Regions from separate parts of the Homo sapiens genome. Here region 2 is linked to region 1. Evidence: fine-mapped expression QTL. Tissue or cell type: cartilage. Region 1 holds a variant in brackets; the other region holds the start of a gene. All regions are shown on one strand. Distances are between the middles of the regions.

Region 1 (8,103 bases):
CAGACTCACACTGCAGCATAGAGACTCCCACAGGCTGAGTGGAAGAAACCTCGAACAATGGTGTGCAGGACAAAGGTCACAAACTAAAACCAAAAAGAGAGAGTGAAGAGGTTAGGAGAGTGTGTGGAGGCTGGAGGAAGGAGGGGTAGGGCGAAGAGGCCAACTGGGCCTCAATTCCCACCCCCTCGCCAACCCAATCTACTAGAAACACTTCCTGGAGAACCCGGAAAATAGATCCAGATCAGAAGACCAGAACTGCGCTTCCTGGAAGGCAGGTGCTGGATGGACCATCCCTTTGGAGGAGCCTCGGGAGGCAGGGAGAGGGGAAGGATGAAGGTGGGTACCTGGAGGTGTAAGTTGTTGATGAGACAGGTGATGCCAAAACCCACAAGCAGCAGGTTGGTCAGGGTGAAGGCACTGATGGCATTGGTGAGCTTTTGGATCTTGCAGTAGCGTGGTCTGATGGATTTGGTAGCAACCCCGTCCCTGAGGAGTACGGGAAGTCACTGGCTGCTGCCTCTACGTTCCCAGGACTCCCTGGTTCTTGGCCTGGCCCCTCCCCCTTCAGATGTGCCTTCGATGTCAGGGCAGCAGAAAACACAGAAATCCATGTTTCTATGGGAAACCCATAGAAACCCACGTTCTCTAGCTCCATGTTTCTCAAAGTGTTGCTCCCCTACCCAATGACACACGCATCAAAGCGGGTGCTTTCTTAACATGCAGATTCACAGGCCTCATCTCGGCCCTCAGAATCTCAGCGGGGATATCTGCAAATCTGCATTTGGACAAATATCCCCCACTAAGTGATTCTCATGCACACTTGAAGGTTTGAGAACCAAGGATGGGAAGGAAGGTGGGAAGTGGGAAGCTCTCACACCGTCTCTCATCAGAAGTCCTCAGGAAGGTGTCCCTGCCCTAGACATAAGCAGATGCCCTCCTGGGGACAGCAGCTTGGCCTGACTGTCCAGCGCTTCCTCTCTCCGGCACAATCAAGGGCACTGAGGCCAGCCCAGGAGAGAGGTCAGTAGGCTGGGGTGAGGACAGGCGGCCCATGTGTCCTGGACAGAAGGGCCCTGCTAGGGGACCCTCACCATTAGGAGCAGAGGGTAGAGGAGGAAGGCTCAGTGCCAGGGCCAGGCTCTGCTAGCAGGGAGGGAGGCCACTGGATTTCCTTCTCTCCCAGTCTCTTTCTCCCATCCTCTTAGGATAAACAGGGACTGTTTGGATGAACACAAAAAGAGCAAAAGCAGTCACAGAATCTGGGTTCAAGACTCCATGGTGAATCCCAGCTACTCGGGAGGCTGAGGCAGGAGAATCGCTTGAACCTGGGAGGCAGAGGTTGCAGTGAGCTGAGATCGTGCCACTGCACTCCAGCCTGGGCGACAGAGCAAGACTGTCTCAATAAAAAAAAAAAAAAAAACCCTCAATGGTGGTCTCCAGCCAACAAGACAGCCCTCAAGGATCCTGCCTCCTGGTATTCCCCTGCTTTGTCCAGTCTCCTTCCACAGTATATCAGGGTTGCTCTGTGCCTATAATAGAACGTAACAGAAGTGATGGTATGCTACGTCTGAGATTATGTGAGAGAAGATACGGGGTCTCTGTCGCTTAGCCCTCTTGCTCAAGGGAAAGCAGGTGCTGTGTCCTGAGCAGCCCTATGGAGAGGCCATGGGGGTAATTGAACTGACATAGATTCTCCAACCCCAGTCAGCCCTTCAGATGACTGCAGCCCTGGCTGACAGCCTGACTATGTCTTCATGAGAGACTGTGACTCAGAATCAGCCGGCTGAGTCTCTCCCTGATTTCTGACTGTCAGAAACTGTATGAGATGAGAAGTGTTTGTTGTTTTAAAATGCCAAGCCTTGGGGTGATTTGTTATACAGCAATAAATATCTAATATACCAACTCTACCTATTCTAGCCCTAACAAGACTTTAGCGTGTACCCTTATAACACAGGTTCTGGAGGCTGCCACTGAAAGCTGTGTGATCTTGGGTGAATGACCTAACTGTGCAACCCTGTACCTCGGTTTCCTCAACTGCAAAATGAAGATATTAACGCATCTACCTCAAAGAGGTGTTGTAGGACTAAACAAGGCAAGGTGCCAAGTGCACAGTCAGCACTCTGCATTAGCTATTCTTATTATTAAGCAAGCCAGGTCCCTTCCTAGCCTCAGTTTCCTCATCTGTAAAATGGGGAGGTACCCCTGATCTCCTAGGGTTCTTGGGAGAAAGCAACAAGTTGCTGGATGTAAACGCACAGAGAAAATGAAAAGCACTGCCTGACCACTTGCTGTCACCATCCCTGTACAGGCAGGTCACCTGGCATCTCCGAGGACAGTGCCCTGAGTTGGGGCGTCCACGCAGTCCTTGATCCGCCAGTCCATGATGTAGCCAATGAGGGGGCAGGTGAGAAGGCACAACAGCTGCATGGCCCCGAAGACGGAGGAGTAGAACCCAACTGGGCAGGATGGGAAGGGCAGTGGGGTCAGGAACTGGCACTCAGTGGACACTATCACCCCTTCCAGCGGAGGCCAGAGAGCACCAAAATAGCCTTCCTCTGAACCCAGACTCTTACATCCCACAAAAGGGTTACCTGGGTGGGCCCAGGCCTAGAGGAGTCCCGCCCCCTGAGAAGCGGGTTGCAGTGGGGTGGGCGTGAGCCAGGGCCCTGCTTTCATAGCCCTACCTGTCTCTGCCACCTTTTGTTGCTGTTCATTTGTCTCTGTGGGTAGGGAAACGTATGGTGAGGGGAGCTCAGCCAGGGTGACCCGCCTGTGCCCCCAACCCCCAGGGGCCTCAGCGGTGCCTCACCATGCTCCTGGCCACCAGTCACAAGGTACTCCAGCATCTTGTTCACAGCAGCCATGTAGAAGATGATCCGCAGCTGGGTCATGCCCATGGTGAGGAGGCTCCACAGGAAAGTGGGGGAGCAGAGGCTCTTGCGTAAGGGGACAGACCCTGGGGAGACAGCAGGGGGCGCCCCTGAGCCCCAGACCTTCCACTGCCCTCTGATTGTCCCAGCTCATGCAGTTCTTGGGGGGAGTGACACTAACTATGTGACTTTGGAGAGAGACTGGTTTCTTCAAAGACGGGAAAGTTCAGATTCACTTGCCTCCAGGCTCTTGCTCAGCTCAGAACATTTTTGGATGTATGTCCTATGCTTCGTGTGGTAAAAATAACTCAGTTAGGTGCCATGGCTCACGCCTGTAATCCCAACACTTTGAAAGGCAGAGGTAGGAGGATCACTTGAGCCCAGGAGTTCAAGACCTGGTGGTCAACATAGCAAGACCCTATCTCTAAAAATATATATATATATTTATTTATTTATTTATATACAGAAATTATATATATATTTATATATATAAATATACATATATATAAAAATATATATATATGAAATAAGCCAGGCATGGTGGTGCACACCTGTATTCCCAGCTACTCAGGAGGCTGAGGCAGGAGGATTGCTTGAGCCCAGGAGTTCAAGACCAGCCTGGTGGTCAACATAGCAAGACCCTATCTCTAAAAAATATATATATATATAAAATATAATATAAATATATATATAATTTATATATAAAAAATAATATAATATATAATATAATATATAATAATATAATATATATAATTTTGTGTATATATATATATATATATATATATATATATATATATAAAAAAATAAGCCAGGCATGGTTGTGCACACCTGTATTCCCAGCTACTCAGGAGGCTGAGGCAGGAGGATCACTTGAGCCCAGGAGGTCAAGGCTGCAGTGAACTATGATTGCACTACCGCACTCCAGCCCAGGCAACAGCAATACCCTGTCTCTATTTTA[C/CAA]AAAAAAAAAAAAAAAAAAAAACCTGGCAGGGCACGGTGGCTCACACTTGTAATCCCAAAACTTTCGGAGGCTGAGGCAGGAGCATCATGAGGTCAGGAGTTCGAGACCAGCCTGGCCAACATGGTGAAACCCCGTCTCTACTAAAGATACAAAAATTAGCCGAGCATGGTGGTGCACGCCTGTAGTCCCAGCTATTTGGGAGGCTGAGGCAGGAGAATTGCTTGAACCCGGGAGGCGGAGGTTGCAGTGAGCCAAGATCATGCCACTGCACTCCAGCCTGGGCAACAGAGTAAGGCTCCATCTCGGGGCGGGGGGGAAAGAAACAAAAGAAAAAAACTCTGAAGCACTCACTATGGGCTACATACTTGACATTTATTACCCCATTTAATAAAATCTTACAACAACCCTATCCTTATCACATTTTACTGATGAGGAAACTGCAGCTCAGGAAGTTAAATGACTTGCTCAAGCTCACAGGGCTGGAAGCAGCAGGTCAGCCTAACTCCAGCTCGTGCCCTTAGCCATGTTGCCCTCTGAGAATCGGCACTGGGGGTAACCACCCTCAAACTGCACACCGTTTTGCACTTTACAAAGAGCTTCCACACCCATGGTGTCATTCAATCATCACAACTAACTTTACAGTTTGTGGGGTGCTTTTAGTGCTAGTTTAAGAGGTAAGGAAATCAAGAGCAAGGTTAGGTGATCTACACAAGTCACATAGCCTATAACTGGAGAGCAGGACTCAAACTCCTCAACTCCCGCTCCTGACTCCAAGGAGCTCCTTCCACTTATCATGGAGCTGGCGGTCCTGGGATCTTCATGTACCCTCCTGAGAAGCAGCCCAGGCAGGTGCTGCAGCTCCTCCTGTGACCAGCAGGGGGCAAAAGACAGCCAGGTGTGGAGGACCCCTGCCAGGAGGCTCACGGGCCTGGCTGCACCTGATGCAATAAGCTCAGAGGTTGCAAGGGGCCCTGAGGAAACCAGCTACCCGACAGGCCCAGAGACCTTGTCCCCATTTTGGAAGCTCCTCCCTCCCCAATCCCAGGAATCCAGCAGGGTAACCCTGAATCTGAACTTCCCAGCGTTAGCTGAGCTTTGATGTGCCCATCTGTAAATGAGGAGCATGCCCCACCTACATCATGGGGTGTTGTAAGGACTGAAGAGGGGTGCGAATAAATACTCAACCATGAGTGCTCACTGAATATGAGGACCCACCATCACTATCCCCCAAGGCCGGCACCTTGACCAGACACTCACTCTCAGGAAGGTTTTCTGAGGTGCCCCGAACATCCTGGGGTGACATGAAGGCATCCGAACCGTCCTCCAGGCTGGGGGCCTTCTGGCTGAGCCTCTGGCCCATGGTGGTCACATGGGTGTAGAAGAGGTCACCTGTCACCTTGTGGTCCAGGGCCAGCCCACTCAGCTTGATCTTCTTCCTGCAGGCAGCCAGGCCAGAGTGTAGAGGAACCAGTCACACAGAGCCCACCTTCAACGGCCTAGTGCTCGGCGGCCATCCCAGCGGTTTCCAGCACTCCTTTACCCGGCATTGACATGCTCACAAGCTCCTAATGCAGAGCTTCTGTTTCTGTTGCTCAGAGCTTGGCTCAGGGACCAGCTTAGCACAGATGCCAAGTAAATGAAGAGTGGATCAGCTGTTTTTCACTTGGGCTGTTCCCATGGAGGAGGCAGCATTAACACCTCAGACTCCAGAGTCAGACAGCCTGCGTCCAACCTAAGATTCACCCTCCTTTGAATGGCATGACCTTTGGAAAGTCACTTTGTTCCCTGTACTTTTGTTATTAATGGGGTTAATACCCAATCTACATCATACAGCTGTTTGAGGATGGTATAGGGGCTAAGTACAGTGCCTGGCATAACTGTCAGTTCTGTAATGTCACCTTATGTGCTTGGTGTGGAGTATCACCTCTTGCCTCTGCTGAACTGACAGGGGGCTGGAAAAAGTTGGCATTCAGGTGGCTCCACAAAAGATGGGGTGCTTGATTCTTTTATGTCCCTCTTTTTGGGACCACATGGCATCGAGTGCCATTGCTGAGGTGCCTCCTACTCAGATCTCCTCCAAACCCAGAAAGGATGAAAACAGTATTTGTCATTACTTTTTTTTTTTTTTTGAGACGGAGTTTTTGATCTTGTTGCCCAGGCTGGAGTGCAATGGCACGATCTCGGCTCACCGCAACCTCAGCCTCTAGGGTTCAAGTGATTCTCCTGCCTCAGCCTCCTGACTAGCTGGGATTACAGGCATGCACCACCACACCCAGCTAATTTTGTATTTTTAGTAGAGACGGTGTTTCTCCATGTTGGTCAGGCTGGTCTAGAACTCCCGACCTCAGGCGATCCACCCTCTTCGGCCTCCCAAAGTGCTGGGATTATAGGCATGACCCACTGCGCCTGGCCCATTACTTTTAATGGCAAAAACCACAATTACTTTTGCACCCACATAAATAGTTACCATGAGCTGAGCATGGTGGCTCACGCCTGCAATCCCAGCACTTTGGGAGGCTGAGCCAGGCGGATCACTTGAGGCCAGGAGTTCAAGACCAGCCTGGCCAACATGGTGAAACCCCGTCTCCACTAAAAAATACAAAAATTAGCTGGGTGTGGTGGCGCGTGCCTGTAATCCCAGCTATTCAGGAGGCAGAGGTTGCAGTTCACTGAAATCATGCCACTGCACTCCAGCCTGGGCGACAGAATGAGACTCTGTCTCAAAAATAAATAAATAAATAAATAAATATTTACCATGTTTTGACCACCTGTTATGTGCCAACTGTATTACTTAAAAACACCCATGGGAGGCTGGGCACAGTGGCTCACGCCTGTAATCGGACACTTTGGAAGGGCAAGGGGGGAGGATCCCTTAAGGCCAGGAGTTCAAAACCAGCCTAGGTAACACAGTAAGCCCTGTCTCTACAAAAAATAAAAAAATTAACTGGGCATGGTGGTGTGTGCCTGTAACCCCAGCTCCTCGGGAGGCAGAGGGAGAGGTTCGCTTGAGCCCAGCAGTTTTAGGTTGCAGTGAGCCAGGACCAAGACACTACACTCCAGCCTGAGTGACAGAGCAAGACACTGCCTCTAAACAAACAAACAAACAAAAGCGACCTGTGGGTAGGTAGGAACAGGCTCATAGTACAGATGAGAAAGCAGAGCTTGGAGGGCTCAAGCGATTTGCCAAGCAGAGGTCCAAGCCGAGGTCTCTCTGAATCCAAAGTTAATTCCGTCTATCATATCACCACAGCCCTCTCTGCCCCAGGGAGAGTCTCTGCCCACTCCAGCCACTCACGTGTAATTGACTTCCTCAGGGGCAGGAAAGGCTTCGATGGGCCAGTTGAGGGTGCAGTTCAGAAAGATAAGGCAGGCCAGGCCAGACCAGGTGAACATGATGACCACGAAGGCCACACCGGCATCGTAGATCAGCTGTGAGAGGAGGGGGCAGGCCCGTGGGGGAGACTGCCTGGCCCCAGACCCCACCAAGGTAGATCCCAGGCCTCAGAGGCCTTAAAGAAGTTCTCTTCTCCCCTTGTCCTTGTGCCCAATTTGCAGATGAGGAAACCAAGACCAGAAGTTTAGAGTCAGACTCAGAAGACCCATCATTCCTTTTTCTTTTTCACTTGAGGCCCCCTAGAGAGCTATGAAATAGTCTCCACAAAGCCTGAAGTTGCTGGCCACTGGCTCAAAATATCTCTGAAATTTCCATTATCTTAAAAAAATACATACATTTTTGCCTATGACTCCACAAACATTCATGTTCATGTTCGCACAAAAATGTCCATTTCATAGTACGTACAAAGGAAACTTAGTGCTCTAGGTTTACCGGGCCTAATCGTGTTTATCCTGCCCCTTCCTGGCACATTCCCCAGGGGAAAAGGCAAACCCAGACTGCTCATGCTCAGCCTTTTCTCACCTTTCCCAGGTCCTCCCACGTGCAACAACTGGGGGGGTTGGGGAGAGGGAGGTGCAAGTGCTCTGCCCAAGGGCTCTCAACCCCAGGGCAGGTAAGTTCTCAATTGAATGAGATTCTGTGCAAATGTGTCAGCCCTTCTTATGGAAGAAGCTGATGCACCATCTGTCCTCTTGTCCTCCCCATACCATCTGACCAGGATAATTAATGTCTGCTCTCCCCTCAGGCTCCTGCTCAAACCTTTTTCTCTGCAGTCTTGGACCTTGGTGCCTTTTCCTCCCTAGGGGCAGGACAGAGCTTCAAAGGGCCACACCCCCAAATGTGTGGAGGTAAGATCTGGCTCTTCAAACACTACTTCAGT
Region 2 (8,103 bases), 37 kb after region 1:
AATTCTTTGAGACATTCTCTGATTTTTAAAACTGATAAGCAAAAATGCACCTGAGGACTAGCAGTTTATGAATCCTCCCTATGGCAGAAAGTACCTACTTGTTTTGTTTTCTTTTTTTGAGACAGGGTCACACTCTGTCTCCCAGGCTGGAGTAGAGTGGTGCAATCTCAGTTCACTGTAACCTCTGCCTCCTGGGTTCAAGTGATTCTCGTGCCTCAGCCTCCCAAGTAGCTGGGATTACAGGCGTGCACCACCAGCCCAGCTAATTTTTGCATTTTTAGTAGAGATGGGGTTTTACCATGTTGGCCGGGCTGGTCTCAAACTCCTGGCCTCAAGTGATCCACCCTCCTCGGCCTCCCAAAGTGCTGGGATTAAAAGCGTGAGCCACCACCCCTGGCCGGCCTAATTGTTATTTCTTATACCCTTTTATGTGTGTTCCAGCCCTCCTACTGTCCACTCCACCCCCATCCCACTTGCTCATAGGGATCTAACTCACTTTGGGCGCTTTCCACAGCTCTTCACATGTAGCAGGCCAACAATATTGTTGAATGAAATATGAAACTCGACACATATCTCACTAGGGACCATTTCCCCCAGTCCTAGAGCAGTGGTTAAAAGTGGCCTCTGGTGTCTAAGTTAGAATCCTGGCTGGACAACTTGCATGCTGCATGAACTTAGGCAAGTTACTAGCTTTTGAGAGCCTCAGCTTCTTCAGCTGGGAACGATTGTACCTGCCTTACAGAGTTGTTAGATGGATTAGCTGAAATAATACACGTGAAGAATTTAGCACAGAGCTTAGCACACAATAGCAACCCAACAAATGATTTACTGTCACTCACATCGTCCCCTTTCTCTCCTCACTGGCTTCCTGCCTCATCACCCTTTAGTGCTTTATCTTCCATCTTCTGCCACTGTCTACCTGGCTGGCAGCTCGAGTGAGCCACCAAAACGCAAACGTGTCATTGTCACTGAACGATTTAAACTCTTCAATAGTTTGCTGTTGTCCTTAGTAGGAGAAAATCCAAACTCCTTATCACAGTTCACCAAGCTCTTTTGGAGCAAAATCTGCCCAGCCTCCAAGCCTCATCTTCACCTCTCTTCACACCCAGCACTCCAGCCACACTGAAGCTGAAGCTCTCCTTTCCTGAATGCTCCACCTCCACACTTACGCCACTTCAACAAAGCCTTTGCAAGTGCCATTGCCTCCAGCTGGAACCTCTAATCCCCACTCCTACCACCCCTTCTAGATGTTCTGGCTATGTGCTAACAGAGAATTCTTGATGTTTCTTGCTAAACCTGAGGGTATGCACAATATCGATTTTCCTCACCTGTCCTCTCTTTCAAGAACAAGGCCAGCAAAGAATAGGCAAATGATAAAATGTGCGGAATTGTCCACAGCAGTGCTGACCATGAGCAGACGGCGCCACCTGTTGACCAAAATCTGCACTTCAGTACCTGGAAAGGAACTTTCTTTCTTTCTACCCTAAAGACTAGTAATGGCTTTGAAGTTTTCCAGTACATCCGGTATCTTCACCTCCCACCAAACTTAGCAATGAAAAAAGCTAATGTTATTGGATACTCAATGTATGCTAGGCACTCTCCTAAGTGCTTTGGTTATTAACACGTTTAATTTTTGCAACTACCTAATGAGGTGGGTAACCTTACTGCCATTTTATGATGGGGTAATTGAGGCACAGAGCAGTTAAAAAGCCTTACTCAAGATCACACTGCTAGAAAATTTCAGTAGAAACTCAAAGTTAAGCAGTCTGGCTTGAACCTGCACTCACAAGCCCCAAACTCACTGCCTCTATTCTGTCTCCTTTACTCCAATGACCTAGTTACATCCCAGACACTTCTACCAGGAAGGCCCACTTTGAAGGTACTGCTGTCACAGTGGCACTGGTGTCAACCACAGTCCCATCTGGAGACAGCAAACGCAGCAGTCAGGTCTGGCCTCCATGGTATTGTTCTGCTTGTGTGACCTCCAGCAAGCTTGCTCCAGCAAGCAACTTACTTCTTAAATCCTCAGCTTGCTCATCTGTAAAACAGGATTAGTCAGGGGGCTAACCCTATTTTACAGATGCGGAAGCTAAAGCACACAAAAGTGACAGGTGCAGGGCCACACAAAAAGCAGCAGACAGCAGGCAAACCTAAGCTGTCTTACTTTTTTTTGAGATGGAGTCTCACTCTGTTGCCCAGGCTGGAGGACAGTGGCACAATCTCAGCTCATGCAACCTCCGCCTCCTGGGTTCAAGCGATTCTCCTGCCTCAGCCTCCTGAGTAGCTGGGATTACAGGCACCCGCCACTACACCCAGCTAATTTTTGTATTTTTAGTAGAGACGGGGTTTTGCCATGTTGGCCAGGCTGGTCTTGAACTCCTGACCTCAAGTGATCCACCCACCTCAGCCTCCCAAAGTGCTGAGATTACAGGCATGAGCCACCTTGCCCGGCCTGTCTTACTCTTAAACACTCATTAATCTCCCTCTGCTGGTAGGGGCTGTGTCTGTTTTCTTTACTCTCAAATGCCAAGCACACTGCTTTGCACATAGTAGGTGTCAACAAACTTGTTTATATATATATATATATATATATATATATATATACACATACATACACACACAGTCACATTCCAGTGTGACAAATACTCCTTCACCAGGAGACAGCGCTACCACTCCGGGATCTTGAAGACTCTCTACAGAGAGCCTAGGCCTGGCAGTCTTCACAGATGACACCCAACAGGGAGCACGTTTATTAAAGTGGGAAGGGGTGGGGTACACCCCAGGGTGTATACTGACAGGGACCTCATGCAGGCCCAGAGCTCTGCTGCACCCTCTTCATCAGCTCTTCATCCTGCATAGACAACTCTGTCAACTTTTTGCCCATCCGCTCATGGATGTCCAGGTACTTAGAGACACATCGGTCCAGGCACACAGACTCGCCCTTGGAGAGCTCTGCTTCCTTGTAGTGAGGAGGCACACACTTCCGGTGGCAGGCACTGGTCATTCTGGAGGGAGGGAGGGGCAAGGTCATGTCAGCAGCATCCTGTGACATCCCAGGAACCTTGACCATTCCAGCCCTGCTATATTGATTTCACCTCCCCCAAGAAAGCAGTGTAAATCCTCAGTTTACACCTCAACCACTGGAAGGTCCTTGCAAGTAGGAAACTTGTCTAAGTCCATGTATATGACTAACTAAGTAGAAACCATTTGTTGAGGACTGGCTACATGCCAGGCATCCTGCTAAGTGCTTTACCTGCATTCTGTTATGCAATGCTTACAATAACCCTAAGAGACATGTATCCCCATTTTACAGATGAGGAAATTAAGGCAAACAGAGGCTCAGTAATTTTCTAAGGATCACACAGAGCTGGGTTATGAAGCCAGGTCATCTGACCTCACAGTCTACACTTAAAAATCCTTCTAATTTATAGCCTTCAGGATAAACCAACCAATCAAGAGAGCTTAAGCCAATAAAAATAGCAGACATTTCACTAAGTGTTGGGCTTGAGGCTAAGGGCTTTCATATATTTTTAGATTTAATATTTATGATGTCCTATGAGGTAGGTATCATTATGTCTTCTTCATAATGAGGAAACCAATTGTCAAACAGTGCAAGTAACATGTCCAATTATACTGCTGGTGATTGGTGGAGCCAGGATTTGTTCCCAAATTTGCCAAATGGTTATGAGCACTAGTTGCAGAATCAGACTGAGGTGCTAGTTCTGGCATTGTTACTGACCAGCTGCCGACCCTAAGGAAGTTACTTAACCTCTAGAATCATCAATTTCCTCATTTTAAGACGGGACTAATAAAATTAACCCACTGGATTATTTTGAAGATTAACAAGTGCCTGACACAGAATAAAGGGTTTTAAAATGTTAACTACTAAATGGGCTGGCTATGTGCTATTTGTCAAGAGGCAAATACTCAGCTTTTCTTGGAACCTAACCAGAGCCTGGATTGGAGTTTCTCTTCCTGCTTGGCTCCTGCATTGCCAGTTCCATCCCCATCTAAATGCCCAACTCATTCTAGTGACCCTTTACTGCATCTACATTAGGATCAACCTTGAAGGTGGGTGTGGGGAGGGTAAGCATGGGCCTCAGGCTCCCCTACATTCAGGAAGGAATTTGTCATAAGTCATTCACCTTCGATAAGGGTGACCAAGACTTATTTTCCAAGACAGGGTAGCACATAGTTCTCTTTACCTGTTGTACATATCGGCCATCATCTCCACCTCCAGCTCCGCAGCCAGCTGTTGGGCCCTGAGAGGATCCATCTCAGCCTAGCACCGTGGAAGGGATCTCCTTCTGGCCTCCTAATCCTGGGAGCAGACATCACCATCAGCACCCACCGCCGCCGTTCACTCTCCTACCCCTGGGGCTAGAGGATACAGAGGACTCACAGGGCGCCAGACCACCACGGGCCACTAACCTCAGTGAGCTTAACCACCCCATTTCACGGATGTGGAAACTGAGGCCTAGCCCAAGGTCGCACAGGACGTCTATGGCGAGCCTGGAAATCGAGCCCCGGATCTCTGATGCCCCAGTTCCTGGAGGTCACCTCTATTCAGGAGATCGAGGACCGGAGGAGAACTCTCTAACCCACGAACCTGAACCTCCAGGGCCCTGGGAATGGGATCATACGCTGAACAGAGGCGACCGGGACCCAGCCCAAAGGCTACACCTCTGAAATGGCGACGCCATCATCAGGGCCACATTGAATTCAGAGGTCATGTGTCACTTACCACTGCCTGGGACGGATCACAATGCCCACGGAGACCCCAACTTCTGACAAATACTATAACGTTACCCGCCTCCCGAGAGGCTCCAGCGGAAGCACGTGGGTTACTTCCGGGAGGAAAGTCCCGCCTCTTCTTTGATTCAAACTCGCTTCCGGAATTAAATACCAACGAGACGGCGCCGGGAACTCGGCGATCATAGAGAGGGAGCGGCTGGCGCCGGGCGAAGAGGAAGGCGACTTGCCAGTGCTAGAGAGGACACCAAAGTACCATAGAAGCTTGGGCGGGGTGCAGAGCGTCTGCAGCCCGATCAGAATTCAAGTCCTTTGGGATGTCACCGAGCGGCTTCAGTTTATTGGTTCTGTAGGAAGAGGCGTGGCGACAGACACCTGTGAACCTCACCCCCGTTCCAGACAGCCGACTCCTGTGCGCAAATCAGGCGTGGAGAAGGAAGAACGCCCCCAAACAGCGGTTCTGTTTTTGTTTCGCGTTAAAATCACCTGGAACGTTTTTAAACATCCCAGTGCCCAGGACTCACCTCATTTCAATTAAATCAGAATCTCTGGGAGTACAGTTTAAAATTCCTCAGGCAGCAATACAATTTAAAATTCCCCAGGTGATTCGTATGTACAGCCAAATTTGAGAAGCAGTGCTCCACGGGACGTTGTGCGATTACTGCTGTGTGTAGGTCACACTAAGCCCCGTCTGGGGTTGCAAAGATAAGCGAGATAGGCTTCCTGTTCGCAGAAAGACAAGACGTGTAAAATATGTTTTCTTCAACAGTTAGAGGTCCTCAGCCACAAAGAGATAATAAAAGCAATTTCGGCTGCCACCAGGGCTAATCTTGGGTGAGGGAAAGAAGGGTACTGGTGAACTTTCCAACTTTCAAGACTTAATGTGTTCTTCAAACTGCACCATTCACTCATTCCCCACTAAAAAGAAGGAAACAAGGAAACAATACTCAGTCCCTTGATTTGTCACACAATTTCCTGGTAAAATAAATTTACAAGATGTAAATTAATGACGCAAGGGCACATTGCCCATTGGAAAAGGTGGGCTAGACATTTTCTGTGTGGTCATCATAAGCTTCCCTAATTGTCCAAGACCATCCTAATTTTAAACAATTGACCTTTCTACTGCTTTGAAGACTCATCTTTGCCAAACTTGTGCCCTGATTTTTAAAGATTGGGGTATAACATTCATAAAGTGCATAAAATACACGAATGTTAAGCTTAATTAAATATATATGTATCTATATATGTACATTTGTATAACCGCCATCCAGATCAAGATATAAAATACTTCCTGCACCCCAAAAAGTTATCTTGTGTTCCTTCCCCATCAATACCCCCTCTCGAAGTTAACCACTATTCTGACCTCTATCACCATCAATTAGTTTTCCTTGTTCTTGAACTTCGTGTAAATGGAATTATACATTATTTTCTATTTTGTGCCTGACTTCTTTAGCTCAATGTACCTGTAAGATTTCCTCCATATTGTTGTGTGCATCTGTTATTCCTTCTGTTTTATTGCTGTCTAGTGTTTGATTGTATGAGTATGCCACAATTCATCTATCCATTCTCCCGTTGGTGGATGTTTGGATTGTTTCCAGTTTTTGCCTATTATGCAATAATGCTGCTATGATACTCTTGTACAGATGGACATATCTTGCCTTGGTTTTTGCCTTTGAAAATATAGTCAACATTGGCCGGGTGCAGTGGCTCACGCCTGTAATCCCAGCACTTTGGGAGGCTGAGGTGGGTGGATCACCTGAGGTCAGGAGTTCGAGACCAGCCTGGCCAACTTGGTGAAACCCCATCTCTACTAAAAATACAAAAAAGTAGCCCGGTGTGGTGACGGGTGCTTGTAATCCCAGCTACTCAAGAGGCTAAGCAGGAGGCTAAGGCAGGAGAAACACTTGAACCCGGGAGGCAGAGGTTGCAGTGAGCCAAGATCGCACCATTGCACTCCAGCCTGGGCAACAAGAGTGAAACTCCGACCCCCCACTCCCCGCAAAAAAGAAACATTATGGAAAGTTAAGAAACTGCGTGGGAAAAGGAGATGGTTTCTTACAAGAGGAATCTTGCAATATCTACTGGGCCTTATGAAAGGTTGCATACTGTATGATTTCATTTAAGTAACATTCTCAAAATCACAAAATTATAGAGATGGAGAAGAGATTTCTGATTGTCTAGTGTTAGGGTTGATGGGGAGATAGAAGTGTACCTGTAAAGGGTAGCACAAGAGAGATCTTTGTGTTGATGGATAATTCTGTATCCTGATTGTGGTGGTGGTTACAAGAATCTACACAGGTGATAAGATGTCATAGAACTGGCAGGGTGCGGTGGCTCACGCCTGTAATCCCAGCACTGTGGGAGGCCCAGGCGAGCGAATCACAAGGTAGGAGTTCGAGACCAGCCTTGTTGGTGAAACTCCGTCTCTACTAAAAATACAAAAAATTAGCTGGGGGTAGTGGCGGGCACCTGTAACCCCAGCTACTCAGGAGCCTGAGGCAGGAGAATCGTTTGAACCCGGGAGGTGGAGGTTGCAGTGAGCCGAGATCGTGCCACTGCACTCCAGCCCAGGCGACAGAGTGAGACTCCGTCTCAAAAAAAAAAAAAAAGCCAGGCGCGGTGGCTCACACCTGTAATCCCAACACTTTGGGAGGCCGAGGCGGGTGGATCACGAGGTCAGGAGATCGAGACCATCCTGGTTAACATGGTGAAACCCCGTCTCTACTAAAATAAAAAAAATCAGCCGGGTGTGGTGGCATGCGCCTATAGTCCCAGCTACTCAGGAGGGCGAGACAGGAGAATCGCTTGAACCCGGGAGGCGGGAGGCAGAAGTTGCAGTGAGCCGAGATTGTGCCACTGCACTCCAGCTTGGGCGACAGAGCAAGACTCGGTCTAAAAAAAAAAAAGAAAGAAAAAAAAAGTCATAGAACTACTACACACACACATTGTACCAATATAAATTATCTGGCTTTGATATTGAATATAGTTATGTTAGATTTAACCTTTAGTGGAAGTTGGTAAAGGGCGTACAGGACCTCTCTGTACTATTAATGCAACTTCCTGTGAAACTATAATTATTTCTAAATAAAAAGTTTTAAAAATCTCTACAAAAAAGAAAACAAATAAGATTATACAAGTATGAGTAAGAGCTGGCCATAAAGAAAGAAAGAAAAATATTTATATAAAAGATTGTGTAAGTAAAGTACCTAGTCCATGGTAGATGCTCAATAAAAATAAATCATTGTTTTCATTCTTTTTCATTTTTAAACTTTCACTGGGGCAAATTTATTTTTATTTTTACTTAGGATTTTTGAGGCAGGATCTTGCCTTGTCACCCAGGCTTGAGTGCAA

The links. PIP is the estimated chance that this variant, and not a neighbour inherited with it, causes the effect.
Region 2: TIMM10 starts here. The variant in region 1 is fine-mapped to the expression of TIMM10 in cartilage (Steinberg 2020, PIP 0.95).

The regions. Positions count from the first base shown.
Region 1 is chr11:57,488,907-57,497,009 of GRCh38, forward strand. SLC43A1 (solute carrier family 43 member 1) reads right to left here. Exons shown (of 15, transcript NM_003627.6): 7 at 7,125-7,258; 8 at 5,087-5,265; 9 at 2,810-2,956; 10 at 2,685-2,720; 11 at 2,318-2,456; 12 at 345-486; 13 at 10-83. Among named protein-coding and RNA genes, the nearest start is that of SLC43A1, 23 kb to the right of the region's middle. RefSeq lists enhancers at 585-1,085, 4,329-5,528. The variant C/CAA (reference allele first, on the strand shown) is at 3,829.
Region 2 is chr11:57,525,914-57,534,016 of GRCh38, forward strand. It overlaps TIMM10 (translocase of inner mitochondrial membrane 10), which reads right to left and starts at 4,841. Exons shown (of 3, transcript NM_012456.3): 1 at 4,745-4,841; 2 at 4,206-4,321; 3 at 2,551-3,005. The coding sequence starts at 4,276. The coding sequence ends at 2,804. It also overlaps the pseudogene RN7SL605P. RefSeq lists enhancers at 1-386, 4,841-5,020.